Linked DNA regions of Homo sapiens: regions 2, 3 and 4 are each linked to region 1. Evidence: fine-mapped expression QTL. A gene starts in region 1. Each other region holds a variant in brackets. All regions are shown on one strand. Distances are from middle to middle.

Region 1 (7,699 bases):
CAAAAGCCAAGGGAAAAAAAAGAAAGAATCGCCTCTAGCCTTTGACTCAGTAATCACATTCTGGGAATGGATCCTAATGCAGTAATTCACATGACCCCTGGGGATGGGGTGGACAGGAGGTGTTGCCTTCCCTCTCCCTGTGTGGGGTCTGAAGCCCTGAGGGACAAGGAGTCACTGTGCCCTCCTCAAAGATGCCCTCCTCACAACGCAACATTTATTGTCCAAGTACCATACGAGGGACTGTTCTGAGTCTGAGCCCATTCAGTCCTTTTACTCCTTTGGAGCTTTTTTTTTTTTTTTAACAGATACCGCTTTGTCACCCGGGCTGGAGTGCAGTGGCATGATCTCAGTTCAAATGCAGCCTTGACTTCCTGGGCTCAAGTGATCCTCCTGCCTCAGCGCCCCAAGTAGCTAGGACTACAAGCCCATACCACCACGCCTGGCTAATTTTTATATTTTTTGTAGAGACAGGGTTTTGCCATGTTGCCCAGGCTGGTCTCAAACTCCTGGACTCAAGCAACCCACCCACCTTGGCCTCCCACAGTGCTGAGATTACAAGCTTAAGCCACTCCACTCAACCTCTTAGGAGCATTTTGAGGCGCTTCTTACAGATGAAGCATGTGAAGGAAAAGGGAGTTCACATCAGTTAATGGTGGAGCCAAGATTTGAACCCAGGCCCCCTGACTGCACAAGCATGCCCTGAACCTACTGTACGACTCTGCCTCTGCAGCAGTGCAGGACCTGAGTGGTGGAGGTGGCAGGGTGGGAGGTGTATCCAGACTTACAGACATAAGGCATCCCGCCATCATTTTGTTTCATCTGGGACAAGGGTCTACTGTTGTCCTGAAGTAGTCTCCTAGGTCTTGATTTCAATTCAACAAAAGGGCATCAATAAAACACTCAGTGCAAACTTCAGATACTCTACTCATTTCCTCTTGGAAGTGAGGACATGGTAAGGCAGAGATGGACTTACTGAGGCCTCCAGTGTGGGCCACTAATACTTGCTGGACGAGTCAAGCTCCTTTTGGTTCTCCCAGCTCGGCCATTCCCTGCCTCTGTGACGCTGGGAAAATCACTTCTCTGAGCCAGGGCTTTCTCATCTGTAACAATTAGCAGGAACCACACTGTACCCAATCAATAAATATTACTTTCACAGGGGTAATTGTCATGGCGTAATTTACACTAGCAAAAAGCTGTAAACAACTGAATATCCAATAATGGAGAAATGACTCCATTGCACAATAATTTCAGACCAGAACTGTCTAAAACCATTAAAAATTACATTGAAAAATTAACACAAAATGATATAGTAAAAAAAATCAGAGGCCAGGTGAAGTGGCTCACGTCTGTAATCCCAGCACTTTGGGAGGCAGAGGTGGGTGGATCACTTGAAACCAGGAGTTCAAGGACAGCCCGGCCAGCATGGTGAAACCCTGTCTCTACTAAAAATACAAAAATTAGCCACACGTGATGGCACATGCCTGTAATCCCAGCTACTCGGGAGGCTGAGACAGACTTGGGAAGCTGAACCTGGGAGGGGGAGGTTGCAGTGAGCCGAGACTGCGCCACTGAACTCCAGCTTGGGAGTCAGAGCTAGAGTCTGTCTCAAAAAAAAAAAAAAAAAAAAATCAGGATACAAAAACTGTAACTACAATTTGGTTGAACAAATATTCTGAAGGAAAGACTCCAAACAGTAGGTGTTTATGGGTGATAAGACACCAGAGTGACAATTTCTTCCTTACATTTTACATATTTTCTGAATATTTCACAAGAAGTTTGCTTTTCTTTATAACAGACAAAAGATTATTTACAAAGTTGGTCTCCTTTCATTTTCTACCTTATTAGTGAATGCTTTAGCAAGAGAGGGTAGGACTAGAAGTGGAAGGATGGGAGATGGGGAAAGGGGAGAGCTCAGTTTCACCAGCATTTATTGAGCATCTGGTACGTCCAGGCACTGTGTAGGGTGTGACAGCTGAGTGAAAGCTCAATAACCAGGCATTACTGTGCAGAGAAGCCAAGGGAATGTCACGTTCAAAGGTCCTGGGGTGTGAAATAGAAGGCTTATAGGAGCACAGAAAGTAAGGCCCAGGGGGAGAGGTGAGATGTGGTTGGCAGTTGGGCAGGCTGGAAATGCCCCAGAGGCCCTGTCAGCTTAATCAAGGGATTCAGATTACATTTTTCTTTTTCTGAGACGGAGTCTCGCTCTGTCCCCGAGGCTGGAGTGCAGTGGCGGGATCTCGGCTCACTGCAAGCTCCGCCTCCCGGGTTCACCCCATTCTCCTGCCTCAGCTTCCCGAGTAGCTGGGACTACAGGCGCCCGCCACCACGCCCGGCTAATTTTTTGTATTTTTAGTAGAGACGGGGTTTCACCATGTTAGCCAGGATGGTCTCGATCTCCTGACCTTGTGATCCGCCTGCCTCGGCCTCCCAAAGTGCTGGGATTACAGGCATGAGCCACCGCACCCAGCCAGGATTCAGATTACATTTTGAGGACCTTGGAGCCACGGAGGATTTTTTTAAATTTTTAATTGAAATTTTATTGGGTGTATTACGTTCTATACAATTTTATCACCTGTGTGGTTTTCTGTATCTCAAGACACTGAATAGTTCCACCACCACAAAGATCCCTCCTCCTGCCTTTGATAACTACACCCCCTTCCTCTGACCCTTGCCCTCTACTGCCCACCAGAGTCAGGGACTGATCAGTGGGGAGGGTAAGGAGGAGGCAACGGAGAAGACCCCATATCTGCCTGGGAGAGCTCACAGGAGTCAAGGTGGACCGTGAGTTGCAGTGCCAAGTTTGGGGCTTGCCAGGTTAGCTACGGCCATGGGAATGTCCAGGTGAAAGTCTTTCGGGGCCAATGGATTTAAATATCCATGGCTTAGGAGAGAAGCCTGGGCTGGAGGTGAGATTTGGGAGGGGTTTGTCTCCTCAGGGAGTGGAGTAAGAGAGGACTGAGGAAGGAGCCGCCTTTCAGGTGACAGTCTACTTCTGCACAGGGGTCCCTTGTTTTGCAGCTCGCTGCCTCCTTGGGACTGGCAAAGCCCTGCTCTTGCTTAAGGAGCCCTCTCTGTGCAGAGGGCTCTCCCAGCATGCCCATCCCCCACCCGGAGCCTCAGAGCCAGGCACAGGAGGTCCTTCTGCACAATGGCCACGCATTAGCTGTGTCCTGTTCAGTCCCCAAGCACAGGGCTTGTTAATCCCAGCCCTACCATTCCAGGAAGGACCCCAGAGGTCACGGAATCCAAAGCGTTGAATTTACAAAGAAGAAAACTAGTCCTCGGAGAAGAGGCTTGGCCAAGGCCATAGACGTGATCTGCTGGCCGAAAGGGGGCTGTTTATTTACTGGTTCAGGATCGGTTTTCCCCCTACAGGAAAAGGGAGGTGAAACCCAGGCGAGATGGGTGCAAGTTTCTGAACACTTTCATTCGGCAGCTTTAATTGAGCGTGTATTATGTGCCAAGGAGGGCCAGGGTTTTCGGGATAGGAGGTGGACAAGGCACGGGCCCTAAGGCTGGTGGATAAGGACATCGAAGGGTTAAATTCTGGGACGGCTGCAGGGAGGAAAGGGTAGAGGAATCTCCCGAGGAAAGGCCCCCTTCCCGGCATCTCAGGCTCCGGAAACCCGGGCGCGAGGAGCCTGGGAAGGGCTGCCCCGCAGGCCTTGGCCTCCCCCGCGGAGCTCCCTCTGGCCCTGGGAGTGGCCGCTCTCGAATTACAACAAAAGAGGCCGGAGGCCGGGCCTGCTGCGGCGGCCGCCTTCGGGGAAGGGGGTGGGTCCGGGGAGGGGTTTGCCATCCTCCTCTAGTTAAAAGTAAGGGGGAAAAGAGTAAACGCGCGACTCCAGCGCGCGGCTACCTACGCTTGGTGCTTGCTTTCTCCAGCCATCGGAGACCAGAGCCGCCCCCTCTGCTCGAGAAAGGGGCTCAGCGGCGGCGGAAGCGGAGGGGGACCACCGTGGAGAGCGCGGTCCCAGCCCGGCCACTGCGGATCCCTGAAACCAAGTAAGAGCGCTTCCCGCGCCACCCCCTCCCCGAAGCGGTTCGCGAGAAAGCGGGAGCGTCCCTATGGGGTCTCCAGGCTTCGTCCTGCGCGGGGCTGCCTCTCGACAGTGCCTGGGGGTTCCCAAAGACTTCTTGCGGGGAGCGATGCGAGGACGTGCAGGCTAACGGGTCCTCCTGCCGCCCCGGGCGGCCCCGCCCAACCCCACCTCGTACGGGCCGGGCGCGGCGCGGCTGCTGGCGCGCCCGGGGAGCGAGGCGCTGGGTCCCTGGATCGTCCCGAGCGCCCGTAATCAGGCGGGACAGAGCCCGTCAAGTCTCGGTGTGTGCTGGGCGTCTTGGAGAGTGCAGCGTGGCTCCAGGGACAGCGTCTCCGGAATTCTGGCTTTGAGGAGTGGGGCACGCGGGGGACGGGTCGGGAGACAGTGACTGCCCTCGGGGCTGTGGTTTTGGGGATGTAGAGCGTGCTGGGCTGGGACGGAGTGGGGGCGGGGACCCCGGGGGCTGCGCCCGGGAGCTGTAGCGTCCACTGCTTGAACCCGGTTCAACCCCCAGCCTGCTCGAAAGGCTGTTGGGAGCGCGGGAGCGCCGTGAGTCCTGCGGGAGCAGAGGCGCTCTCGGCACGCCAGGTATGCACTCCCAAGTCGCCCTGCCTCTCCGGGGACCAGGGACCCTCTCCCGCCTTCATCACCTAGAAGCCCTGGAGTTGGAAAGAACGGGCACGAGCGAACCCACGGCTACAGCTGATCCCAATCTTGAGCCGTTGGTCCGGTGGTCTGAAGTGCCTACAACTTTTACGCAGGCGCTTTGCCCACCGCGCCCCTTCTCACCAGCCCAAATTTGGAAGCCCTCTGGGTGTGGCTGCCTGCTCGAGGTGTCCCAGGAATCAGCGCTGGAATAGAGATGATTGGGAGAACAAGCGAGGTTCCCTCCTCTCCGTGCCCGAGCTAAGACCATCAAAAAACAGCCGGAGTGCGGGGCGGAGCGGGGCGAGGGTGTGAGGAAGAGAACACCGCAGAACACGGCGAGGGAGGGGGCTGAACTACTCAATATGGTTAGGAAACCCCAAGTCCTGATGAGGGGAGAGATGTGCATGACAGAAACATGCTCCAAATTAGTTTCGTCCCTAAGATCTTGAAACTGCAGAGATCTCAAAAACAATACTTTTTTTTTTTTTCTCCCAGAGGAAGAAAAACGCTGAGGCTCACGGTCACTGAGTTAGTCAATGTGGGGACTGAAACCCATACCTCTTACTCCAGGCCCCTCCCCTACACCACTGCTAGCCTGTCCGTCCTGGAACCCCAAAACAACATTTGTCATCTTTGGTGGAATGAATTAGTTATTGATGGTGTATCATGTACTTAATGGTCAGGGTTGGGGTTTAGGGTGGAAGAGGAAGAGTTCATTTCCCTGGTCAGTTCCCAGATAAGTGACTGACTCACTGGATCCTAACTTGACTAAATTTTTAATCTTTCTCCTCACCTTTGTCCCGTTCCTCTTCCTGGTCCCTAGTATCTGCCCTGGAATGGCCACCAGAGCCATGACAAGATGCGTGCTCCCCATGGGCCCCAGTGGCTACCAAGGCTCTCCCCAAGGAAATTGAGTCTCACTAATCTGTGTGTGCACGCGCGCACGTTTGTGTATGCATGTGTGCACGTGTATGTGTGGGCACATGTATGTGTGCATGTGTGTGTCTCCACACGAGTGTGTTTGTGTATGTGTGTGCACCGGTGTGTGTTTATATGCGCACACAGGTGTGTGTGCGCGGGCACGTGTGTGTGCACGCAATGTGTGTGCATATGTATTCCTGTGTGCATGTGTGCACACCTGTATGTGTATATGTGTATTTGTGTTTGTGTGCATGTTTGCATGTGTATGTGTGTGTGCGCGTTTGTGCACTTGTGTGTATGTGTGTGCACGCATGTGTGCACGTGTGTATATGTATATGTGTGTTTGTGCATGCATGTGCATTTGCTTCCCTGTAACTTTGTGTTAGAAAGTGACTTAGTCTAAGGTCACTTAGGCATTGAGTGGCAAAGTTGAGTATGAAACTCAGGTCTGAAAACAAAACGTACTTAACACCACACATTGGCTGACATTTTAAGTATCACAGATAGGAGATTCTGCAAAGATGCTTCCTTTTATTTTCTTTCCAACTGGCCTCTCCTGGCCTCTTCCCAAGTCCTTGTCCTTTGACCTCTAGATGGCCAGTGTGGAAGGGCTTTGTGAAGGAAACAGATTTTCTGTGCTCTAGATAGACATGACCATCAGCGAAGGTGTTGAGTCCCAGAAAACACTACATTGTTTATTTTTTATTCTCAAAAAATTTCAAGTATGCAAAAAAAGTAGAGAGAAGGGTATAATGATGCCTCATAAGCTTCTCACTGAATTTCAACAGTTATTTTGCCACATGTACGTCATCTGTCCCTTTGTTTCTGTCATTGAAGTAGTTTAAAGCAAATCCTATACATCATGTCATTTCATTGCTACATATTTCAGTGTGATTTCTAAAGATTTTACATAACTATGATGCCATATTTAGACCTAAGAAAACTAAAAAAAAAATATTTGGTATCATCTAATGCCAAATAGCAGTCTATATTTAAGCATTTCCCAATTTTCCTCAAAATGTCTTTTTTTATAGTTGATCTGAGTTCTGTTGATTTGTGTAACTTGTTACATTCCTATTGTTATGTTCTTCCTTTCAAACTACTTTTCTGTCCACTATGTCATTTGATTCTTACAAGGTCCCACTAAAGAGTTAGGTGAGTATTTTCAAATTCATTTCTCAGCTGAGGAAATGGATAAACAGATAAGCTGTCCAGAGGGCACAGCTGGTGACCCAGGGAGCCAGGGTCTAACCCAGCCTCCTCATGGCTGGGCTTCGGTGGTTCTGGTTCTCCATGTTACTCGTGGACTCTCAGCTGCTCTCTGAAGAGTTCTTCTTGGCTCAGGCTTCATCCTGGGCTTATCACTTCCTATACACCTGCTGTCAGAAATCCCTGTGTAAATATTAGTAATTGGACATTTGGTGCTTGAGATAAATGAACTGCAAAATCAGGAAGCCAGGGTTTGTTTCCTAGCTCATTGCAAAACTGTAAGGGCTCAGAGCTGCCCTCTCTGAACTAGAGAGCAGTGTACTTCCTCATTATTTGACTCCAAGGTGTAAAAATAGGATGAGTGAAATGACTGTTGCTGGGATTCCTGGAAGAAACAAAGGCCCCAGAAAGAAATCTAGTAGAGGACAATCTCCCCTCTCTGAGCATCACCTGAGTACTCTGACAGCTGGTACCTTCATGCTGAAGCCCTCAAATCCTATGACAGAGAAGTAGGGGTATATAGGCTTCCCATTGAAGCCCTTAGTTTATGCATGACTTTATTCTGCATTTGACCAATGAAGATATGCAACACCTGATATGGCTTGGCTGTGTCCCCACCCAAATCTCATTGTGAATTGTAGCTGTCATAATTCCCATGTGTTGTAGGAAAGACCCGATGAAAGGTAATTGAATCATGGGGGTAGATCTTTCCCCTGAGAAGTAAATCTCGTGAGATATGGTTTTATAAATGGGAGTCCCCTGTACATGCTCTCTTGCCTGCCACCATGTAAGATGTTCCTTTGCTCTTCCTTTGTCTTCTGCCATGATTGTGAGGCCTCCCCAGCCATGTGGCATTGTGAGTCCATTAAACCTCCTCC
Region 2 (7,699 bases), 90 kb after region 1:
TGTCTCTGACGATCCCGAGAAGACCTCCCTGAGCTCTAATCCTGCCTCAGCCTCCAAGCCCGAGAGACCTGAGGAACACAGCACCTGTGTTCTCATCCCGTTTCTGTACCTGACGATCCCAATTCTGCTCCTCATTTTTCTCTGCTGGAAACTTCTCTGAAGTGTGAGAGTAAATCCTAACAGTATTTCGAAGGCCCATAGAGCAAAGGGGCCAAATAAATCCCAGCATCCTAAGCCTCGGATCTCCTCAGCTTCTGTGCAGAACTACTCTATTAATTGCTCTTTAAACTGGGGAAAAGTCTAAATTCAGAAGTTCGTCTTTATAACATGTCTAATGATTGACCTATGCAAATAGATTTCTTCTTCTCTCCCACCACTTCCAATCAACCAGTAACATCTTCCTGGAGCACTGTGTTGAGAAGGATTCTGAGATCCTATTCGGGCTTAGAGGAGAGAGTGCTGTGATTGATTAGCAATGTCTGCCCTGGATCAGGACTGGGGAGTGGGCAACCTGAGTTGTGTGCACCTGCCATTCCTGACACACAGCCTTGCAGTGTCTGACCACAACCTTAGCTCTACTTCCCTGAGGGAGAGAGTGACAGAGTCCAAGTGCTACACTCAGGAGACCTGGATTCCCACTCACTCTGCCACCAACTAACTGCACAGCTTGGATAGGTGACCCTCCGTGCTGTTTCGATCTGAAAAATGGGATCATGAAACATTGGGATTTTTGTGAGGCTGCAAGTTGATAGGATATGAGAAAGTGACAGTTTGAGATGATGTACCCACCATTTGTTTTGTTGGTTCTTCCAGGAGACCTGGTATTGGCACGGAGATGTCAACAGCAACAAAGTGGTCATGAGTGGAGTGAAGTGCTCGGGAACGGAGCTGTCCCTGGCGCACTGCCGCCACGACGGGGAGGACGTGGCCTGCCCCCAGGGCGGAGTGCAGTACGGGGCCGGAGTTGCCTGCTCAGAAAGTGAGAGCTCCTCCCCTCCCTCCCCACCGGGCTCCCAAGGGGACCAGAGTCCCACCAGTTATTCCTCAAGAGACTCTGAAGCCTTGCCATGAGCCAAGCAATAGAGGAAGGTAGAATGAAATCCTAAGGGAGAAAAACTGGGGGCAAGAGAGATGACCGCCACCCCAACCACAGATCGCTGTCTATGATGTAGTGGGGAGAAAAGCGGGAGGGAGGGGCTGCAGTCTGTAGCCCGGATTCAGTCACAGGACCACTGCTACTGCAGTGACCCAGGGCAGACTACATGACTGAGAGTGCCTCCGTCATGCCAGTTAAATGAGGTCGATGACATCTTCCATGGGTGTTGGCTTCCTCCCTCCACCTCCTCTGTAGAGCATTTCCTGTTTTCAGACCCTGGAGGTCACTTAGCTGCCCGGTAGTTCGCTGGGAGTCCTAGAGAGATTGAGCCCACAGAAGGGAATGCCAGCCAGGATTCAGGATGACCCACTTCCTGAAGCCTCCCTCCCATGCTGAGAGAAGAGGAGCAGTAGACAACCTTTTGGAATGCTGCCCTCCTGAGCCCAAACCCAGCCCTCCCTTTCCTGGCCTTGTAATATAAACCCACACGCAGCCATCTCCATTGGGAGGCCCAGGTGCTGGCCAGAGAACTTGAGACCAGACCCTGCCTTATTGGCTGATCTTGGAAAAGCGTGTCAGCCTCTGTGGTCTTTAGTTGTAGTTTTCCTTAGAAATTAGAAATCAAGTGTGACAATTAATATGTGCAAGGGCTTCATAAACAAAGATGCACTGTCATCCTGCCATCACGGAGAACGCGGGATTGAACAGCAGCTGCGTCTCCCACCAACCCCTTTTAGACTCACTAGCATCTCCTAGCCCTTGCAAAGCAGGACCTCAGGGCAGGCTTCGCTGGGCAGACATCACAAGCTATCACATCCTTGTGAGAGGAGAGATGGCGAGATCACCATCTTACCAGCTCCCCGGGGGAAAGCATCCCAGCAAAGAGGAACAGCCACTTCCCTGTCGGGGGCCTTTTCTTTATTTATCAATTTATTTATATTTGCAATATCCCATCTTTTCCAGAAGGAAATGAAGATAATACAAACCTAAATACAATTCAAGATAGCATAAAATAAAAACAGATGAAAGATAGACAGGTGCTGGCAAAATGGTAGTGGCTTAAAATGGAGCCAGGGAGGGGTTAATTTTACAAATGTGTACTAGGGGGTTCTATGCATTTATTATGAGTAGGTCATTCATTTCACAGTGAGCTTCCTAGCAGCCAGAGCAAAGAGAATACTGGTCATTAATATAACTAACAGTACCTGTGAGATAGAAATATGGCTGTGAGTCAAGAGAAGCCCACCACTCTAGAGATTAAAGGGAATTTCTCTCTGAGGACTGAGATTTATGAGATGAGCCATGCCGTCAGATCCTCATGGGAGATCCAAAAATGAGTTTCATGGGGCGATTTCTCAGAATGCTCCACAGCTTAGGCTGAAGCATCACTGGGAGTGTGTCTGCAGCGGGGCAGTAGGCTTTGGGGCCAGGAACACAGCTCTTGGCTGCTCTGGCTAAATGCACGTTAGAGTATTCAGGGAAATAAAGTAATTCTTCAGGCAACCCTTCATAATATCTTATTCTCACCCCACCAACTGCATATGCTAGAAATCTACACAACCTCCTTGATTCTCCCTCTTCCCCACCACCCCCATGTCCAGTCCCTCTTGATTTTTACCTTTCAGTATTTTCTCAACCTTCTGTATGTCTTTCCCTGCCACTGTTGCTGCCTGTGTCCAGATGACCACACAGCATCACTGCAAAGGAGATCCCTACAGTGATACGTGGCCCTGCGGTGGCTTCCCCTCCTCTCCCCTCCCCAAAGCCAGAGCCAAGGCCACGTCCCACTTAAATCCCACCCAAGGGTCCCACTGCACTTCCGTGACCAGGGGCTCGCACGGGGCTTGTGTTGTCCAGCCTCCTCGCTGGCCACCCCCTCCCATCCTCAGTGACTGCACCACACTGGCTTTGACCCTCCGTGGTGCCGCAGGGGCCTGGCACAGGCTACTTGTTTTTTGTTGTTGTTTTTCTCCTTTTTTATTTTTATTTTTATTTTTTTCTTTTTTCGTTTTATTTATGTATTTATGTATTTATTATTATTATACTTTAAGTTTTAAGGTACATGTGCACAATGTGCAGGTTATTTACATATGTATACATGTGCCATGCTGGTGCGCTGCACCCACTAACTCGTCATCTAGCATTAGGTATATCTCCCAGTGCTATCCCTCCCCTCTCCCCGCACCCCACAACAGTCCCCAGAGTGTGATGTTCCCCTTCCTGTGTCCGTGTGTTCTCATTGTTCAGTTCCCACCTATGAGTGAGAATATGCGGTGTTTGGTTTTTTGTTCTTGCGATAGTTTACTGAGAATGATGATTTCCAATTTCATCCATGTCCCTACAAAGGACATGAACTTATCATTTTTTATGGCTGCATAGTATTCCATGGTGTATATGTGCCACATTTTCTTAATCCAGTCTATCATTGTTGGACATTTGGGTTGGTTCCAAGTCTTTGCTATCGTGAATAGTACCGCAATA[A/C]ACATACGTGTGCATGTGTCTTTATAGCAGCATGATTTATAGTCCTTTGGGTATATACCCAGTAATGGGATGGCTGGGTCAAATGGTATTTCTAGTTCTAGATCCCTGAGGAATCGCCACACTGACTTCCACAATGGTTGAACTAGTTTACAGTCCCACCAACAGTGTAAAAGTGTTCCTATCTCTCTACATCCTCTCCAGCACCTGTTGTTCCCTGACTTTTGAATGATTGCCATTCTAACTGGTGTGAGATGGTATCTCATTGTGGTTTTGATTTGCATTTCTCTGATGGCCAGTGATGGTGAGCATTTTTTCATGTGTTTTTTGGCTGCATAAATGTCTTCTTTTGAGAAGTGTCTGTTCATATCCTTCGCCCACTTTTTGATGGGGTTGTTTTTTTCTTGTAAATTTGTTTGAGTTCATTGTAGATTCTGGATATTAGCCCTTTGTCAGATGAGTAGGTTGCCAAAATTTTCTCCCATTTTGTAGGTTGCCTGTTCACTCTGATGGTAGTTTCTTTTGCTGTGCAGAGCTCTTTAGTTTAATTAGATCCCATTTGTCAATTTAGGCTTTTGTTGCCATTGCTTTTGGTGTTTTAGACATGAAGTCCTTGCCCATGCCTATGTCCTGAATGGTAATGCCTAGGTTTTCTTCTAGGGTTTTTATGGTTTTAGGTCTAATGTTTAAGTCTTTAATCCATCTTGAATTGATTTTTGTAGAAGGTGTGAGGAAGGGATCCAGTTTCAGCTTTCTACATATGGCTAGCCAGTTTTCTCAGCACCATTTATTAAATAGGGAATCCTTTCCCCATTGCTTGTTTTTCTCAGGTTTGTCAAAGATCAGATAGTTGTAGATATGCAGCGTTATTTCTGAGGGCTCTGTTCTGTTCCATTGATCTATATCTCTGTTTTGGTACCAGTACCATGCTGTTTTGGTTACTGTAGCCTTGTAGTGTAGTTTGAAGTCAGGTAGTGTGATGCCTCCAGCTTTGTTCTTTTGGCTTACGATTGACTTGGTGATGCGGGCTCTTTTTTGGCTCCACATGAACTTTAAAGTAGTTTTTTCCAATTCTGTGAAGAAAGTCATTGGTAGCTTGATGGGGATGGCATTGAATCTGTAAATTACCTTGGGCAGTATGGCCATTTTCACGATACTGATTCTTCCTATCCATGAGCATGGAATGTTCTTCCATTTGTGTCCTCTTTTATTTTGTTGAGCAGTGGTTTGTAGTTCTCCTTGAAGAGGTCCTTCACATCCCTTGTAAGTTGGATTCCTAGGTATTTTATTCTCTTTGAAGCAATTGTGAATGGGAGTTCACTCATGATTTGGCTCTCTGTTCGTCTCTTGTTGGTGTATAAGAATGCTTGTGATTTTTGTACATTGATTTTGTATCCTGAGACTTTGCTGAAGTTGCTTATCAGCTTAAGGAGATTTTGGGCTGAGACAATGGGGTTTTCTAGATATACAATCATGTAGTCTGCAAACAGGGACAATTTGACTTCCTCTTTTCCTAATTGAATACCCTTTATTTCCTTCTCCTGCCTAATTGCCCTGGCCAGAACTTCCAACACTATGTTGAATAGGAGTGGTGAGAGAGGGCATCCCTGTCATGTGCCAGTTTTCAAAGGGAATGCTTCCAGTTTTTGCCCATTCAGTATGATATTGGCTGTGGGTTTGTCATAGATAGCTCTTATTATTTTGAAATACGTCCCATCAATACCTAATTTATTGAGAGTTTTTAGCATGAAGGGTTGTTGAATTTTGTCAAAGGCCTTTTCTGCATCTATTGAGATAATCATGTGGTTTTCATCTTTGGTTCTGTTTATATGCTGGATTACGTTTATTGATTTGCGTATATTGAACCAGCCTTGCATCCCAGGGATGAAGCCCACTTGATCATGGTGGATAAGCTTTTTGATGTGCTGCTGGATTCGGTTTGCCAGTATTTTATTGAGGATTTTTGCATCAATGTTCCTCAAGGATATTGGTCTAAAATTCTCTTTTTTGGTTGTGTCTCTGCCCAGCTTTGGTATCAGGATGATGCTGGCCTCATAAAATGAGTTAGGGAGGATTCCCTCTTTTTCTATTGATTGGAATAGTTTCAGAAGGAATGGTACCAGTTCCTCCTTATACCTCTGGTAGAATTCGGCTGTGAATCCATCTGGTCCTGGACTCTTTTTGGTTGGTAAGCTATTGATTATTGCCACAATTTCAGATCCTGTTATTGGTCTATTCAGAGATTCAGCTTCTTCTTGGTTTAGTCTTGGGACGGTGTATGTGTCGAGGAATTTATCCATTTCTTCTAGATTTCTAGTTTATTTGTGTAGAGGTGTTTGTAGTATTCTCTGATGGTAGTTTGTATTTCGGCACAGGCTATTTGTTTTGCCCTAGCCTCATCCTTAGTGTTACTTCCTCGAATCCCCACTCCTCCTTCAGAGAAAAACTAAAACACAACTTCTCCCAAAGCAGCCTCCTGACCACCTACCCGACAGGTTCCTCCCGTTACAATTCCCATCATATCTCCTGCCAGCTCTTGTTGCAGTAGTAATTATTATGTGCTGAATATGTCTGTCTCTTGTTAGTCTAGGGTAGTTCCACCTCTGCCTTGCTCAGCTCTGTCCAGAGAACCTAGCACAGAGCATCGTAATACTCGAGCCATGGGTAGGTGGGAGGATGCCACCTAGGAGTTCTGCTGCCTGCTGGATGCAGGGGAGGCCAAGTCCCCAACCCATGGCAGCTGTTGAGATTGCACATCTCAGGCTACCAGCTAAGCACAAACCATGGTACATTAACGATCCCTCGCCTTGCGAGCTGGCGGGAGAGCCCAAGTGGAGACCTCCATGCTCAGCTCAGAGGTATTCAGAGGGGCTGTCAACTAATAAGAGGCTCACATGACACCCTCATAAAAATAAGCGTGCCCAGAACACTCGGTGTAGGGCAATGCTGCATCCTGGCGTAGCCTCCAAGAAGAAATACTTGTCAGTAAACGGGAGCCTCCTGATTTACGGCTTCCGTGCCCCACCCCATGTGCCATCTGTGTGCACCTTTTCCCTACCCTTTGGTTCCACACCCAATTCTTGCGAGTGGATCTGCTCTCTAGAGGATGCCAGCTCCATCAGGTGCCAGTGAACTCACAGGGTTTACTGAGAACCCGCTGGACTCTGCTGCAGCCTGTAAGCCTGGAGGGGGAGGGGGAGAAGGGAGACAGAGCTCACTCCACGTGCTGGTGAACTTGAGGGAAGCAAAACTCACAGACTCTGCTTGCTTAAAATTTATAAGCAATTCTGCAAAGCAGTCTAGGGGGAAAAAAATTTACAAGCAACTTGTCAAAATAAAAGATGGCAGGATCTTGTGATCACTGATTCATATATGGCATTTTTCTGTGTACTAGAAGTGTTCACTGAAAGCTCACTTTTAAAGGTAAAGCCTACAGTTAATCCTTTTGCAAAGAAGCTAAGCTTTCTAATACAATTGTTTAGTAAACGTAGATTGTAGCCATCAGTCATTCTTTTAACACCTGCTATGTGCAGTGCACTAATTGAGTAAATCAAGCATTGTAAAAGACAGGCACCTGGGGAAAACTCTCCTGTGGGGCAGCAGTGTGTCCTGTGGAACCTGGAAGACCCTGTTAAGAAGGCAATTTGGCAGTAGGAATCAGAGACTTAAAAACAGACAATGCTTTCTCCTAGCACTTTCACTTACAGAGATATATTCTAAAGAAAAAAATAAGTTATATGCACAGATTTACTACAGGGTATTTATCACAGCTTGTAAGTGAAAAATTCCAAACAGCCAATATATCTAAAAATATGAGCTAGAGCTAGGAATTAAATCTTATGTAGCCATGAAATGAATGTGCTGTAATGGATATATGTCAATGTGAAAATATGTGAAGATGTATTTTAAGGGGAACTGTATTAGTGCACCATAAATCCACAGACAATATTATACATGTTGGAAAATACATCATTCCCAGAAGCAGCAGACCAAGGTATTAGAGGTGTTCTTTCTCTCTGGGTAGCACAATCACATCGTTATTGTTGTTTTTGCATTTTATTATGGAAAACTTGAAGCCACTTGAAGTAGAATAATATAATCAACCCCCACGTGCTCATCACTCAC
Region 3 (7,699 bases), 100 kb after region 1:
GGCGAGTGGATCACTTGAGGTCAGGAGTTCAAGACCAGCCTTGCCAACATGGTGAAACCCCATCTTTACTAAAAATACAAAAATTTGCCAGGCATGGTGGCGTGCTCTGTAGTCCCAGCTACTCGGGAGGCTGAGGCAGGAGAATTGCTTGAACCCGGGAGACAGAGGTTGCAGTGAGCCGAGATCATACCACTGCACTCCAGCCTGGGTGATGGAGTAAGACTCCATCTCAAAAAAAAAACAAAAACAAAAAAGCATTGAGCTCTGGAGTCTCACGGTAGAAGGCTGTGTCTTCTTTTGTCCAGATCACAGTGACCTCCGCCAAGTGTCAGGCTCTCTCTCCCCTTAGCGTTCTGGATTTTCCTTCCAAGTCCATGCTTCCCTAACTCTACCCCAGGGATCCAGCCCCCTCCTAGATGCCCAAGGGTCACGACAGCTCAGCCTGCAAGAGGAGGAATACCTTCCTCGCCAGGACTCACCATCCCATCTTCCCAGAGTCCTGCTCTCTATTTCCTGGGGGGAATGGGTGGGTAGTGCTGGTGGGCGGGGGGTGTGGGGGGGCTCTAGGCTCTAATCCAGGCAGCTGGGAAGGAGATGTGGCCCTAGGGAGGGATGACCGCATACGCCTAAGAGGCAAAGCGAGATGCCCAGGACAGAAGCCAGGGAAAACTGGGAGGCCATGAAACCAGCTGCTCCCCTGAGTGTTTGCAGGGGAAAAACTGAAGCTGAGGAAGATTTAAATCAAGTCTGCAGGAAGCCCAGCAGTGGGACGGGGTCATCCTTACAAGAGTCTGTCTGTGCGCTCCGTCTGAATTCTGTTTAGACAACGGAGCATCAACCTATTTCTCTTCAGTCTTTCCAGCTGGTAAACATGGTCACATAAGCCCCTCTCTGAGCGATGCAGACATTTTTTAGGCAGTGAGTCAGACCTCATGTCTCTTCTTGCTCCTTCAAGAAGCCAAAATAGACTTTCTCAAAGTCGTCACTTCCACGGCCACAAAATGCCTCCTTGTGAATGTTCTCAGTGGAACCCGGGCTTAGCGTCATTTTACCCAGAAACATGAGTGACCGAGGGAAGCCCAACTTAGCAACTTCTGATATTATTTTTAGCACAGGCAAATGCAGGAGGAAGGGAAAAGAGCCTCGAATTTCCTCGCAGGAAACCTATCCTGTTCATTGCTGTCTTCCCCGTTCCCCGTGCCCCCACTGCCCGTACACAGCAGAGGGAACCTGAGGCCAAGGGCAGGGGGCTGGGGAAGTGAGGAGCTCCTGCCTGCCGTTGTAGCAGCAGTGTTAGTGGATGTAATAAAAATCCTGCCACCGTGACTGCTATGATGGGAGTGTCACGAGGAAGGGGACAGGTATGTCAAGTGCTGACTAATGTGCTACCACTTCGCATTAGTTATTTGACGCCGTTCATCTTATTCAATCTTGCGGCCCCGAGAGCGGGCAAAGCCACCCTCCCCTCTTTGCCGAAGAGGAAGCTCAGATCCTGCAGCAACAAAACAGGGGACTCTGCTCCCATGACTTGGCACCTTGTTCCTCAGTTTCCCTCATTTTCCAAATGTCCCTGTAATGGCAGAGACAAGCATATAGAATAGTTGCAGACACTTGTGACATGCTCGTTGCAGGTTGGGATCGGGCTAAGACAACCTCCTTCCTTCAGCCCCGGGCCTGGGCAGTGCAGGCTTCGGGAAGGCCCTGCAGCAACAGGCGACAGCCCCGTTTCCCTTGTTTATTCTGAAACAAGGGCTATTCTAAACCAAGCGCATGTGTTCCAAGACTCTGCATCTGTTCTCAATTCCTCCCGAGGGAAGAGAGGGAGCCTCGTTATGTAAACCAGCGGCAAGGGATTTGCAGCCTGCTTGCACAAGCTCTCCTGCAGAACTCTTTTCTGGAACCCCCGGGGACGTGCCTCCCTTTGCCGCTGCTGTGTGCCCCTGAGGATGAGTCAGTGTCTCCCTCCCAGAGGGCCTCCCAGCTGTCTTTCTGCTCCTCCCTGCTTTATTTGCACAATGCGAGGAGCACAGACTTGCTGCTCACCTCCCAGGGCCAGAGGCGAAGCTGCAGGCCCTTCCTGACCAGGTCTGAAGCACAGGCACGACCTTGGGGTACCTGTGTGTGTCCTGTGCAGGGCACATGTTCTATTCCTTACTATTCCTGTTCTTTCTGCTGCTCCCCCTTAATCATGCTTCTTACCCTTTGGTTTTTCTCCCTACCATATTCCATTTCAAAAGACGTCAAAATGCGGAGTTTTTTAATTACCCTGAAGAAAGTGCATCAAACAGGAAGGGGCTGTGAGAGCCAGTTGCACGCTTATTAAAAACAATAGCTGGAGTTCTGTGCTTATCATATGCAGTGCTGGCTAATCTGCTCACCTCCCTGGTACCCACAGCACCCCATGCATTACGATGATCATTCCCATTCAGCAGAGGAGAGGACGGAGGCTTAGCAAGGTGAGCAGTGGTCTGACTCCAGAGCCCTGAAGCTGCCTCTGCAGCACCGGCTTTCCTTTCCTCAGGCCTCTCATCCACTCCTCTCCCCACCCGGCCCCCTCTGGTCCCCTGGAAGTATTCCCAGAGGCAAATCGCCAGCCAGGCCTCTGCTTGCAAGCAGCAGTTGCTCCAGAAACTGACCTCCAGGCCATCTCTCTCTCGCTCCAGGCACTACCACAGCATGGAGGTGTTCACCCACTATGACCTGCTGAACCTCAATGGCACCAAGGTGGCAGAGGGCCACAAGGCCAGCTTCTGCTTGGAGGACACAGAATGTGAAGGAGGTATCTGAGCGGAGTGGGGGGATGGGAGGCCTCAGAGGGACTCGAATGCCTCTGCCTCCACGATCACCTGGCTGGAGCCCAGGCCTGGCACTGACCCTGTGTCACTCTGACCACTGCCACCTTTCCCCACCTGGACCTTCCTCAGCTATAGTGAGGCGCTGGGGGCATGGGCATGACCTGGTTCCAAGGGCACCCGGATTCCCCAGAGCTGTGCTGACAGGCACTGGTCGGTCCACAGGGCCTCCTGGACAAGATCCAGACTCTGGGGACCCTGCTCCATCTGGGCTTAGCAGCCTAGACCCTGATGCGTATGCCCCTCCCACTCTGGCTGCCACCAACCTTTTTTCTGGTGTCCCAATGC[C/T]AAGTGTCCCTACCACACCAGGTGTCACCCTTCAATTATATCTCAAATGCCCTCCTCTGAAGCGCCCCCCCGTCCCGGCAGGTGTGGCACTCTGCTCACACTTCTGGTAGGTCACCACACCTGCCCTGTGATCACCTGTTAGTGCACCTGCAGCCCTGGGGGCTCTTCATGGGGAGACATGTCAGTTCTTCTTGCTAGACCCACTGTTTACAGCAGTGTCCAGGCATGGCAGCTTCTCAGTAAATGCGTGTTTAATTTGTTATTCATTGAAGCGGCCCGCCACTGACTTGCCGTGAAATCACACAGCAGACAGGTGTTGACCTCTTACCATGTGCAGATAACATGTAAGTGTCAGAGAGACATGGGCCTACACTCTAATTGCCGATCCTCCAGAGGAGACAGACAGTATGACCCCCCACGTTTTGCTAAACCACAGGCACCAGAGATTTCCTCGGTCCACACACACGCAGTTATCCCCAGGCTGAGGATGTCACAGAAAGGCCAGGGTGGATCAGAGTGGTCAGGGAGGGCTTCATGGAGGAAGGGGAACTTGAGCCTGGCCTGAGAGAAGAGGCAGGATGTGGGTAGGGAATTGAGTGGGGGGTTCTACTGAAATGAGAACAGATGAGCAGCCCACACAGTGGGGTGGGATGCCGAGCCCAGATGAAGCAGCGGTAGGGGCCTTGGAAGCAGGAAGAGGGTGCGGCAGTGGGGCCATGGTTCCCTGGTGATGAGCTCTCCTCTACCCTGCCCGCAGACATCCAGAAGAATTACGAGTGTGCCAACTTCGGCGATCAGGGCATCACCATGGGCTGCTGGGACATGTACCGCCATGACATCGACTGCCAGTGGGTTGACATCACTGACGTGCCCCCTGGAGACTACCTGTTCCAGGTGAGGTGGGTGGGAAGGGGTTCCAGCCCTGCAGGGGGAGGAGGGGAGGCCACCTCCACAGGCTCCTTCCCATTGGTGTCCACACAGGGGCATGGAAGTCAGGCTGTCTAAAGGGCAAGGTGCTACCCCCAGAGGCCATCACGGTCCATCAGTTAACCCAAAGATATCAGGCATGGGGGCCTGAGAAATAGGGCGTGCACAGGACCAGAGACACCACAGGCATTCACATTTGATTGAGTTAACACCTGGTGCATGCAAATCAAAACTCATCAGCAGGCTAGATTTGCTCCTCCGGCCAGTTTATTCCATACATGCTCAGGCAACCCACACCTCTTGTCTCCTATGGAGCTCTTGTCTCCACCATCCCCATTTCTCCTAGTGCCCTAGGCTGCCTTGGTCTGTGCTTTCAAGACTGAAAGCAAACTCATAAAGAGCCAGTCACTTGCAAATATCTGTGACTTAGCTCTTCCGGAAATATCTGCCTCATAGAGGAGGATCTGCAGAAGGGGCCATTCTCAATGCAAAGTGAATCTATAAGAATAAAATACTGAACACGAGACACAGCCTGGCCAGGTGACTTCTTTGTCAGAGGGGTTGCCGAGATTTGTTTCCACATACTCTGGGTGGAAGGCCAGCCCTGAGGAGGAACAAGGGGGCCTTGGCTTCCCTCCTTCCTGAAAACAGCGGCATGTTCTGGCCAGGGCTCTAACTGGGGGAGAAAAGGGGCATTGTGTCCCTAGTGTCTCTCCCAGTGCACGGGTACACGTAGCCTGCAGAAGCTTTATCTCACCCTCTCACTCTCTCCTACGTCCTCACCCATCTCGTTTTCCAGCTTGCCCTGTTGGCTAGCAAAGTGGATGACCAGAAATGTGTCATTCCACCTTGAAAGCTTTCCTGAGGGGGCATTCAGCCAGCCCAGGGCCTGGCCCACGGTCCCCACCTACAGACAGTCCTCTGAAGAAACAACACCTTCAGAGAAGTCACCACAGAGGGGCTTTCAGAGAATTCCTGGGCAGTTTCAGAGGCTGGAAAGCAGACAGCCAAGCACTTTTCCACCCACAAGCCCAGAACCACAGACTTGGAGAGGCCTAACCAGAGAGTTATTTATTTTAAAAGATGAATAGCCGTGGCCATGTGCACGTATACAGTGCCTGGTGGTTTCTGTTTGAGGTTTGCTATCATTTTGCTGGGTGAGTGTGTATCTCCCTGTATTCTGGCCAGTGCCATCCACTTAATAACTACTATCAATTGCCTAAGCCTGGGGAATGCATTGTTTGATTTAATCTCCCAAGGAAGGGGCATCATCATTACCCTCATTTCACGGCCACCCAACCCCAGACATATCAACTCTTTATTTTGTTTTCTCAACCCCTAAACAATACAATTAGCAAATGGACTCATTAGGGGCATGTTAATACCTCTGATTAATCAAAAAGAACATTCCCCTTAAGATAGACATGGAGCTTCTTTAGGTGCCACAAGCACCGGCCTGGGGACTCACGGGACACAAGAGGTGGTCTTCACTTCAGACATCAGTGGTGCTGTGAAGGACAGGAGGAGGGAGCTGGGCGAGGAGGAAGTGACCGTCCACGCAGAGGGACCTGTGCAGAGCTCAGAGGCAGGGGTGAAGGGGCCTCCTGGCTCCTGGTGGCCCCGCTTTATCCGCTTTCTCATCATTTCCTAGATTCACAGACATACAGAAACCTAAAGCCACTTCCCGCAGGCCCTCGTGAGATGTCGGTCTGCAGTAGATGAGTGGGGTGAAACAGTGGGGGACACACATTTCCAGCCCCGCCTCCACCCCACACGTAACACTGGCCCTCGTGTCCCCAACACGAGCCCTTGCTGCATCCAGCCGCCCTCACGGCTGCACTGTCGAGACGCCTGGGCGGCCAAGGAGCTGCCTAGGCCTGCACAGCTGGAGGCCTTGGCATGTGGAGCTGTGTTTGCCCCATGCCATGTGTGGGCCAGGAACGAGGGGGCAGCTAGAATGGTTGGGTGGAAAAGAAAAAACTCAAGCCGCCCCGGAGCAGGGCATGTACCTCCTTAGCTAAAGGCACAGGGCCCCAGCGGGACACAGCTGAGCCAGGTGCAGGCCCCCAGAACAGCCCCGCTGGGCCAGAGCAGAGGGCCGGCTGCCAGGCTGGCCTTGGCTTCCCACAGCACCTCTTTGGGCAAGCCCAGCGGCCTGCTAAAGGTTCGTGTCCAGGCCCTTCTGGGGCCCCAAATTTAGAGAATGTTCCTGAACGAGCAGCCTGTACCCGCCCCCCTGCTGTGGGTCGCAGCCCTTCCAAATGTGGCAGGACCCTCGAGGGAAGGCCTGTCATCTGTGTCCTCTGCCCCTCTGTTCACCACTGTTGTCTCTTCTCCCTCTCCCTCCCTTTCTCTTTTCTCCTCGGGTCCTCACCGTAAACCTCCCCTTTTCTGTTCCCTCACAGACACTCTCCCAGAATATGTCCTTCCTATTCCTGCTGTAGCTGGGGGGATGCGGATACAGGGGTGGGTGGAAGGATGGGGAGAGGGTGCAACTTCTCCAGCAGCCCCAGAGCCAGGCCCTCGGCCAGCAGAGCAGACAGGGACATGGATCCCCAAGTCCCACCTGTCACTTTACAGAGAGAGGAAGGGACATGTCCACAGTCACACGCCTGTGACGAGTGTCCCATCTCCAACGCCCAGGCAGCCCTCTTCCAGGTTCCCACACCGCCAGGTCCTCCCTGCACCCTTCTGCTTCTCTTCAGCATCTTCTTTTTGGGGCCTCCCCAGACCCCAACTTCTGCCTTCCCCAGAACTCCCAGGAGTGGGTGACCCCCTTCCGAAGGCCCACCCTGGGTAGAGGGGTGTGTGTTACACGGATATGGACAGAGGGCAGGGTTTCCCTCTTCCAGGCCATGCTTCCTCTGCTCCCTGACTCATCTCTTCCCCTCCCCAAGGACTTTGTTGAGACCCACAGACCCCCGTCTTGGGTCCCGGCACCTGCCACGCTCCCCTTCCCTGAGGTGCTGGTCTCTCAGAGCCCCAGGCCTGGGTGGAGGTGGCCGCAGAGGGAACAAGCAGCCTCCTCTGCCCTGCTTCTCCCTAGGTTGTTATTAACCCCAACTTCGAGGTTGCAGAATCCGATTACTCCAACAACATCATGAAATGCAGGAGCCGCTATGACGGCCACCGCATCTGGATGTACAACTGCCACATAGGTAAGGCCAGGCCGCCCCCACTCCAGGAAGCAGGCGGGAGCTGCCCTACTTTCTCAAGGACCCAGAGGCAGCTTCCTAATTTGGGTAAAGAGCTCGGGGAATGCAGCCAGCATCACATTTCCACATTCAGGACAGAAGCCACAGACACACAGGCCTGGATGGAGACTGAGTTTTTACAGCCAGCTCCGGCCACGGATAGAGGATGGTACAGGACCAGGCCAGCCCAGTGCAGACCCCAAGGCTTTTTAAGGGTTGGAGCTGAGGCCACTGGCTCATTATGTATGTGACCTCAAAAATGTGGGCATCAGCAATCTGTGGGCTCTGCCTATCAGGTTTTTCTGTCGAGAGCTGGAAGCTAGCAAACTACTGTTATTTCTAGTCTCCAATAAAGACACTTTTTTCCTTGGATGATAGGACTTGGGGAACAAAAGGGAAGGCAGAGCTTTTTCCTCTGCAGGAAAAGTCATGGGCCTC
Region 4 (7,699 bases), 23 kb before region 1:
CAGAAAAAGTTTGCTGGTCCTTGTGAGAACAATGCAGTTCAAAAAAGGATACAGACAGAAGCATCCTCTTAAATCAGGAATGTAGTTTCCATTTGTGGGCACGAAAAGATGGACAAGAGAAGTAACCAAACTTCAATCTTAAAATATTTGTTGCACCAGAATTTCACTTCGGATTTTTCCGTCTAGATTATTTTCAAGATGAGTTTTGAAACAAACCAAGAAACCTGCCCCTCACCCAAAATTGTTTAAAAAGAGACCACTCAAGGGAGTTCATTATGCCGTATGGAGATGTCTGCAGTCGCAGCAAATCACATTCCAGAGAAGGTCTCGCGTAGGTGAAGACAGCCAGGTGCTTTCTCTAAGAGATACAGGGTGGGTGAGAGACAAGCCAGGGAGGATCTTAATTCAAGAGAAGAATTCATACCAAGAGCTGACCAAGAAGGCAGTAAATTCTGTGTACTTGTAGCAGAAGAAATTGGACTAGGAACTTGCCCAAAGCTTTATCAAAGAAAAGCATTGTGTTCAATCTTGGTAGAAACATGCCAGCAATAAGTGCTTATGTTCCATAGCCATATCATGGGCTTCTCACTTTTAAACCTCCTCCAGGGGATGTTCTCAGACATTTCACAATCCCTCTGGGGACATTACAGTAGAAGAGAAACACATGGAACTGTACCAGTGCTTTTTGCCCATGTTCATCCTAAGCTCCGGCTTTAGGCAGTGCTTTCTGACCTGGGCGGAGTGAAGACGCTGCTGGTGGCTGAGGCCAGTAACATGGGGCCCCTGCCCAGCCACCCTGAAGGCTGGGTAGGTCCCTCTTTTCACCACCAGTTTTCCACATCTGTGTACTCTAGATTAACAAACTCTGGATAAACAGATATTTACATTTTAAACTCAGGCCTACACAGAGTAGTTTTCCTTATAAGGAGCATGTATCACTTAGCAAGAAACTAAAAATGGCAAATGAGTTTTTCATCCTTTAAGAAAAAAATCAGCTTTAGAATTCTCTGCGGTCAGTTGTGTGCAATGCAACAAAACTACCTTTCAGTAAATTACTTAGTTATTTATTTCAGTGTTTTGTTTCTTTTGATACTAAGTTTCCCTTTCAATAATGAATGATGTGACCAACCAAGGAGAATTTGTTTGTTCTGTACTAAAATTATATTTTACAGTTAGGAATTATAAAAAGCAAGGGAGCATCTTTAAATGTTTTTTGTTTAAGCGATGTCTTCCATCCAAAGTAAGAATAATACTCTCGGAAGGTCCTTTTGGTGTCATGTCACTTGCTGTATGTGGCAGCCTTACAGTGCCACACTTGGGTACTGAAAAATCAATAAAACGAAAGTTCATCATCCCATGGCCCGTAGACTGTGTGGGCTTGCTTCCTTGTCATCTTTGAATCTTCTTACTCATTAGAATGATGAGTTGAACTTGAGTCCAAATTCAGTGAAATACATTGTCTGAGTCTGACGCACACTCTTTGCATGTGTTGTGTTGGGTGTGCATACAGTGAAGCACAATTGTGTGGGGTTGTGGAGAGGGCGTCCACACTCTCTGCAGCTCAGAAAGCAGATATTTCACAAGTAGTGACCAACCCACGACGTTAAGCCATTCACCAACAATAATTGCCACTCTGAGATGACTGTTTATAAGGTCACCATTTTAAGTACCTACTTGTATATAGACAAGGAAAAGTAATAAAATTAACCAATTTTTATGTATTTAATAGTAACAGCAAATGCTGACTTTATGTTACACTGTTTTGCAGTTCGATCTAAGCTTAGAACCTTTGGCTTACTTCCAGAAAATTATGACTGTCATTATTAATGTTACGTGTTACCAATATGGAGGATGACATTAGACGCTCAGCATGTTTCTCAGCCGTTGGAGAATACATAGATGTTCTCCTGGAGCAGGAAGGTGGGCCTGAGCCATAACCTGAAAATAGATGATAGAGACAGATGGGAAGGGAAGGGGACCAGCTGTTAGGACCAACAAAAATAAAGGCCTGAGACATGCCGGAGAGGAGAGGGAAGCGCAAAAACAAAATGAGAGAACAGAGCCAGCAAAGTGAGCTCAAGGGAGGTCCTCAAGCCATTGATCGCTAGGAAAACAGGACACAGCATTAAGATAGAACTGTCGTAAATAATTTTTGAGGCAGTGCAATGACTATAGGGCTTTTTGCCTGACTTTAAATACGTTAAAATATCTAAGATGTTAAAAGACATCTAAATTTTTATTCCACTTGGTGGAAGAGAAGTCAGTGCCTATTTCCAACACTAACCATGTTGACAGGTCTGAAAAGCCATGGTTCTGTGTTTTTGTTTTCAGTCTGTTTCCATTTGTCCTATGAATTGGCATGTGCCCTGTGGGTTTTTTTGGTTTTTTTGAGATCCGGAAATGCTAATGGTTTGCACAGAGGGGGTCGTGAGGTGCAGGTCACCTCTGTCAGAGTCACAGTGTCTTCTTTTGGAAACGTCATGAAAAGACAAAGGAGTGCCCGGCTAATCCCAAAGCACGCCTTGGCAGAGTGGATCTGCCTGGAGCATCCATCCGTGGCAGCATGAAAGGCAATCCTGTGAGAGTCTTCCTGGCCCCACCTCGTCTGGGAGCATGTGGGCCTGTGATCCCACCTCCTCCTAACAAAAGAAGAGTGTGTCTGTTGATGTGTTTTATTTTGCTTTTAGCCAGGCTAGTCCCCCTGCCCTTGCGCAGTCCAGCCTCTTTCTATTAATAGATCTATTAAGGTTGACTGAGACCTGCTGCAGGGGACGCTAGGGGCACTTTGGCCTTCGATCTTTGCCTTTCACCCTTGACACTGTTTGGCAGGTGAACGACATCCGGGCTCCAGACTTCATGGCCACTTCAACATTTCTGTCAACAGCCTGTGTCTGTTTCATGTAAGAGGCCCAAACAAGAAAATCAAGGCTTAAGAAGGATTTCTGCCTTGAGTAAAGGACTGAAACCTCCTCACAGAACACGATGGTGACAGGCACAAAAGACAGACTTCTTGTTTAAGTAGGTGAACTCCAAAGACGAGAGAAAAGGAGTTTTTTTCCTCCCGTTCAACCAGTCATCAAATAAACATCTCAGGCATCTGGTGTTTTGTCAAGGGATTGGGATTCCAGTGGCCCCTGTGTGACTGGAAGGGGAAAGGTTTGTCGGTGGCAACGCCATCGAAACACAAAGGAGCAGCTTTAGAATCCCCAGTGTGGGTCTTCTCTTGTGTTATTTCTACAACATCCTTGTGCCAGCTGTTCTTGCTGTTCTCTCAGGCTTCTAATTGGGAGTGTGAATACTACCTTTCACCCTTTTTGCCTTCATGAGAATCAGAGTTTGAAGTGGACAGTTCTGAAAATATTAATCATCTTTTTTTTTTTTTTTTTTTTTTTTTGAGACGGAGTCTCACTCTGTCGCCCAGGCTGGAGTGCAGTGGCGCGATCTCGGCTCACTGCAAGCTCCGCCTCCCGGGTTCACGCCATTCTCCTGCCTCAGCCTCCCTAGTAGCTGGGACTACAGGCGCCTGCCACCACACCCAGCTAATTTTTTGTATTTTTAATAGAGACGGGGTTTCACCGTGTTAGCCAGGATGGTCTCGATCTCCTGACCTCGTGATCCACCTGCCTCGGCCTCCCAAAGTGCTAGGATTACAGGCGTGAGTCACCGCACCGGGCCTAATCACCTTATTCTTGCCTGTCATTACACAAGCCTTAAACTCCAGGGACCAGACTTAGCACTTTCTTTTCCTAAGATTGCTTTTTCTCCCACTTGGCCCAAGCTTTAATACCCAGATTTTAGACTCAAAACACTTAAAACATTTGGTGGGCTCTCCTCAGCCTTGTAAAGTTCTTTGATACTGGTCATGGCAGCACAAGAGAATTTTCTGGAAGTTCCTGGCTGTTTAATGTTCAAATTACACGTTTAAATTCTCTCCCACCTCCCGTGGCCCTGTTTTCCATCAGTGTATCTATTTCTGGCCCAAATGTCCTTGAACATGGACCATGACAGGTCCTGTGTTTACTTTCCATGTTTCTACATTTATAATCCAGTAAAGAAGACACCGAGTAGTACATAGTATTTTGTAAATATTTGTAAACTAATGAAAATCTGGTTTCTTTCACAAATCACCTCTTTAGGTTTCTAAAATTTATGAAAGAAATCTTTTAAAATCTATTCTAGGCCGGGTGCAGTGGCTTACGCCTGTAATCCCAGCACTTTGAGAGGCCAAGGCAGGCGGATCACGAGGTCAGGAGTTTGAGACCAGCCTGGCCAACATAGTGAAACCCTGTCTCTACTAAAAATACAAAAATTAGCTGGGCAAGGTGGCGGGCGCCTGTAGTCCCAGCTACTCAGGAGGCTGAGGCAGGAGAATCACTTGAACC[C/A]AGGAGGCGGAGTTTGCAGTGAGCCAAGATTGTGCTACTGCACTCCAGTCTAGGCGACAGAGCAAGACTCTGTCTAAAATATATATATATTTTATTCTCAATTTTTGCTGTTCTTTCCAGATGTGCAGAGTTGTGTGTGGTTTTAAAACCATATGCAATGTGCCGTGAAGGGCGGGATGGAACCCAGGCCTCTGAGTCTCAGTTCTCTGTTCACTTCCCTCCACCAGAGTTTGTTAAGGGAGTGTTGCATTTTAAAGCTTTATTTAGAAAAACTTAGGAAAACCAAGTTTACCTCAAGTGGTTTCCTTTTTTCGCAACCTGTTCAGCCTTGACAGAAAGGAAAAAGAAATCCCAGAATTAGGTAGTAATAATAGAGGCAAAGTGAGATTGATATTTTCTGAAGCCCTGCTTACAGAAAATAATTCCTGCATATTTATTTTATTCTAAACATAGCTTCAGATTGTTTTTCATTCTAAGTTGTCCTTAAAAGTCACTTTTTAAACCTCACAAGAAGCACCAAATGTAAGGGGGAAAGGATGGATTTGACTACATCTAAAGTAAGACTTTCTGTTCATCAAAGCTAACAGATGGCAGACTAAGAAGGTATTTGCAGTGACTGAAATTGAAAAGGGATTAAAATGTACAAAGTTTCATGCAAAACAACAAGAAAAAGGAAATCCAAAAGAAAAAACCGGCCATGGATATTAATAGGTGATTCACAGCAGGGGAAACCCAAATGGTGAACAAGAGATAAACTAAGCTGAAGAAATGCAAATGTAAATTAAGACCCACTACCTTATGCCCCTCAGAATTGCCAGACTTCAAGTGCTGGCAGTGATGCGGGGCCTGGACTTCAATATTGCTGGTGGTGGTGCAAACTGCAATGCGTACCCCAGAAGGGAAGCTGGCAGCTTAAAAGTTAGCAGCGTGTGTGCCCTTTGATTCAGAGAGCCACTTGCGCGTGGCTCTCCGGAGAGATTTCTACCTGGGTCCATGAATGGACTTACGGAAGGATTCCTTGGTAATGATTCTGAGTGACTGTGTTGATGGAGGCAAGCAAGGTCTTGGACAAGTCAAAGGCGGCAGGTGCGTACCATGGAATACTGTATAGCCATGAGAGACAGACCTAGAACTATGAACAGCAAGCGGGTGGCTCTTAAAAATAGTGTTGAATACTGAAAGCAAGACATGAGAATTGTTGTATAATGCCATTATGTTAATGTAGGGCATACGGCACTGTATGTCCTATGAGGATGTGCATATTTTGATTCAAATACATTAAAATGGACGTTATGGGGACACAGATTATTTATGAAAGGAGGAGAAAAGATAAAACTGATTTCCTTGTTTTAGGGTGACCTCACATCCCAGTGAGCCCCTCAATTCAGGGCCAGGGAGGTTGATTGGTTACCCCACCCCAACCCAACCCAGGCTGTTTTCAGCACGGCAGCCTGATAAGCTGTGATTCAGACCTTGAAGTTGTTAGGCAAAAGCTCTCCACTCGGCTCTGTATTTGACTCAGGAAGAACTGAAGTCTTTATAATGGCCTAGACAGCCCTGCACCGTGGCCTCCCACTCCACACCTCTCTGACCGCAGTCCTCATTTCTCCGAGACTCCGCTCCAGCCACCCTGGCCTCAGGGCCCTCTCAGGACTTTCCATCCCCCTCACCCTGCTTCACTTTCCCCCATGATGCTTATGACCTTAGATCTAGTACACTCTGTTTTCATTACGTTCTATGTACGACTCTCCCTATTACCCTACTAGAACATGAGCCAGGGGGCAGGGGGCTTTTGTCTGTGTGTTTTCATGTTGTATCCCCAGGCACAGGATCTGATAGGCGGTAGACATTCAATAAATATCTGTGGAATGAATGAACAAGGCAGGATCCTTAAAGCGAGGGGGAATGACCAGGCTGAGAACTGAGAGAGCATGCTAAACTCCACAGTCTGGCCCCAGGGATGGGGGCAGGAAAGATGGCACCACCTCCTTGCTTTATTAGAGGGAAAGAAGGTGCTTCTTGTGCAGAACCGTCATCATAACAGAAAGATAGCTTATTACACGCCAGGCACTGTTCTAGCTCTTTGTTAGCTTACATAATCCCTGTATTAGTTCGTTTTCACACTGCTATAAAGAACTTCCCAAGACGGGGTAATTGATAAAGGAAAGAGGTTTAATTGACTCACAGATCAGCATGGCTGGGGAGGCGTCAGGAAACTTACAATCACGGCGGAAGGTGAAGAGGGGGAACCAAGACACCTTGGCAGGTGGCAGGAGAGAGAATTAATGCAGAAGGAACTACCAAACACTTATAAAACCATCAGATCTCCTGAGAACACTATCACGAGAACAGCACAGGGGAAACCACTCTCATGATTCAATTACCCCCACCTGGTCTCCCCCTTGACATGTGGGGATTGTGGGGATTATAATTCAAGATGAGATTTGGGTGGGGACACAAAGCCTAACCATGTCAGTCCCCAAAATGACACCATGAGGAGGTGCTTTGATTACCGTCACTTTACAGGTGGAGAAACAGATGTGGAAAAGGCACACAACTTGCCCAAGGTACCGAACTAGCCAGTGGTGGGGCTGGGATTTGAACGCAGGCAGCCTGGCTCCATTCTGTACTCTAGAGCTGCACTGTCCAGTATGACGGCCACTAGCCACATGAAACAGGCCAATCTAAACTGAGATGAGCTGTAAGTATAAAATATACACCAGATTTCAGGCCGGGCACAGTGGCTCATGCCTGTAATCCCAGCACTTTGGGAGGCCAAGGCGGGCGGATCACGAGGTCAGGAGATTGAGACCATCCTGGCAAATATGGTGAAACCCCGTCTGTACTAAAAATACAAAAATTAGCCAGGCATGGTGGTGGGCGCCTGTAGTCCCAGCTACTCGGGAGGCTGAGGCAGGAGAATCGCTTGAACCCGGGAGGCAGAGGTTGCAGTAAGCTGAGATCTCCCCACTGCACTGCAGCCTGGCAACAGAGTGAGACTCTGTCTCAAAAAAATATATATCTATATCTGTCTGTCTATATATAGATATAGACACACCAGATTTCAAAGACTTCATGTAAAAAAAATATGAAATATCTCAGTTTCTTTACATTGGGTACATGAGACATGACAATATTTTAGGTATATTGAGTTAAATAAAATATTATTGGATTAACATCACCTGTTTCCTTCTACCTTTTTAATGTGTACACTAGACAACTCTAAATTGCCTGTGTGGCTCACAGTATATTTCCGTCAGACGGAGCTGCTCTCGGTACTTGCTTCTCAAAGTGTGGTCCTTGAATCAGCAGCATCA

Alleles and levels. Positions count from the first base shown, and alleles are read on the strand shown. Sizes are in standard deviations (SD) of each study's normalised expression. Not every link is listed here.
For the expression in esophagus muscle of the gene that starts at base 3,839 in region 1, allele C in region 2 goes with a lower level than allele A (small effect, 0.23 SD a copy in GTEx).
For the expression in tibial artery of the gene that starts at base 3,839 in region 1, allele T in region 3 goes with a higher level than allele C (small effect, 0.22 SD a copy in GTEx).

Evidence for each region. PIP is the estimated chance that this variant, and not a neighbour inherited with it, causes the effect. A credible set is the group of variants that fine-mapping cannot tell apart.
Region 2: its variant is the best candidate, but not a certain one, in a credible set for the expression of LOXL2 in esophagus muscle (GTEx, PIP 0.60).
Region 3: its variant is the best candidate, but not a certain one, in a credible set for the expression of LOXL2 in tibial artery (GTEx, PIP 0.71).
Region 4: its variant is the best candidate, but not a certain one, in a credible set for the expression of LOXL2 in blood mononuclear cells (TOPMed, PIP 0.83).

Annotation. Positions count from the first base shown.
Region 1 is chr8:23,400,260-23,407,958 of GRCh38, reverse strand. It overlaps LOXL2 (lysyl oxidase like 2), which reads left to right and starts at 3,839. Exons shown (of 14, transcript NM_002318.3): 1 at 3,839-4,005.
Region 2 is chr8:23,310,229-23,317,927 of GRCh38, reverse strand. It overlaps LOXL2 (lysyl oxidase like 2), which reads left to right. Exons shown (of 14, transcript NM_002318.3): 9 at 814-979. Among named protein-coding and RNA genes, the nearest start is that of LOXL2-AS1, 22 kb to the left of the region's middle. The variant A/C (reference allele first, on the strand shown) is at 3,578.
Region 3 is chr8:23,298,362-23,306,060 of GRCh38, reverse strand. LOXL2 (lysyl oxidase like 2) reads left to right here. Exons shown (of 14, transcript NM_002318.3): 11 at 2,664-2,779; 12 at 3,898-4,034; 13 at 7,114-7,225. Among named protein-coding and RNA genes, the nearest start is that of R3HCC1, 14 kb to the right of the region's middle. RefSeq lists enhancers at 3,479-3,979, 3,980-4,480. The variant C/T (reference allele first, on the strand shown) is at 3,141.
Region 4 is chr8:23,422,820-23,430,518 of GRCh38, reverse strand. It overlaps ENTPD4 (ectonucleoside triphosphate diphosphohydrolase 4), which reads left to right. Exons shown (of 13, transcript NM_004901.5): 13 at 1-1,357. Among named protein-coding and RNA genes, the nearest start is that of LOXL2, 23 kb to the right of the region's middle. The variant C/A (reference allele first, on the strand shown) is at 4,383.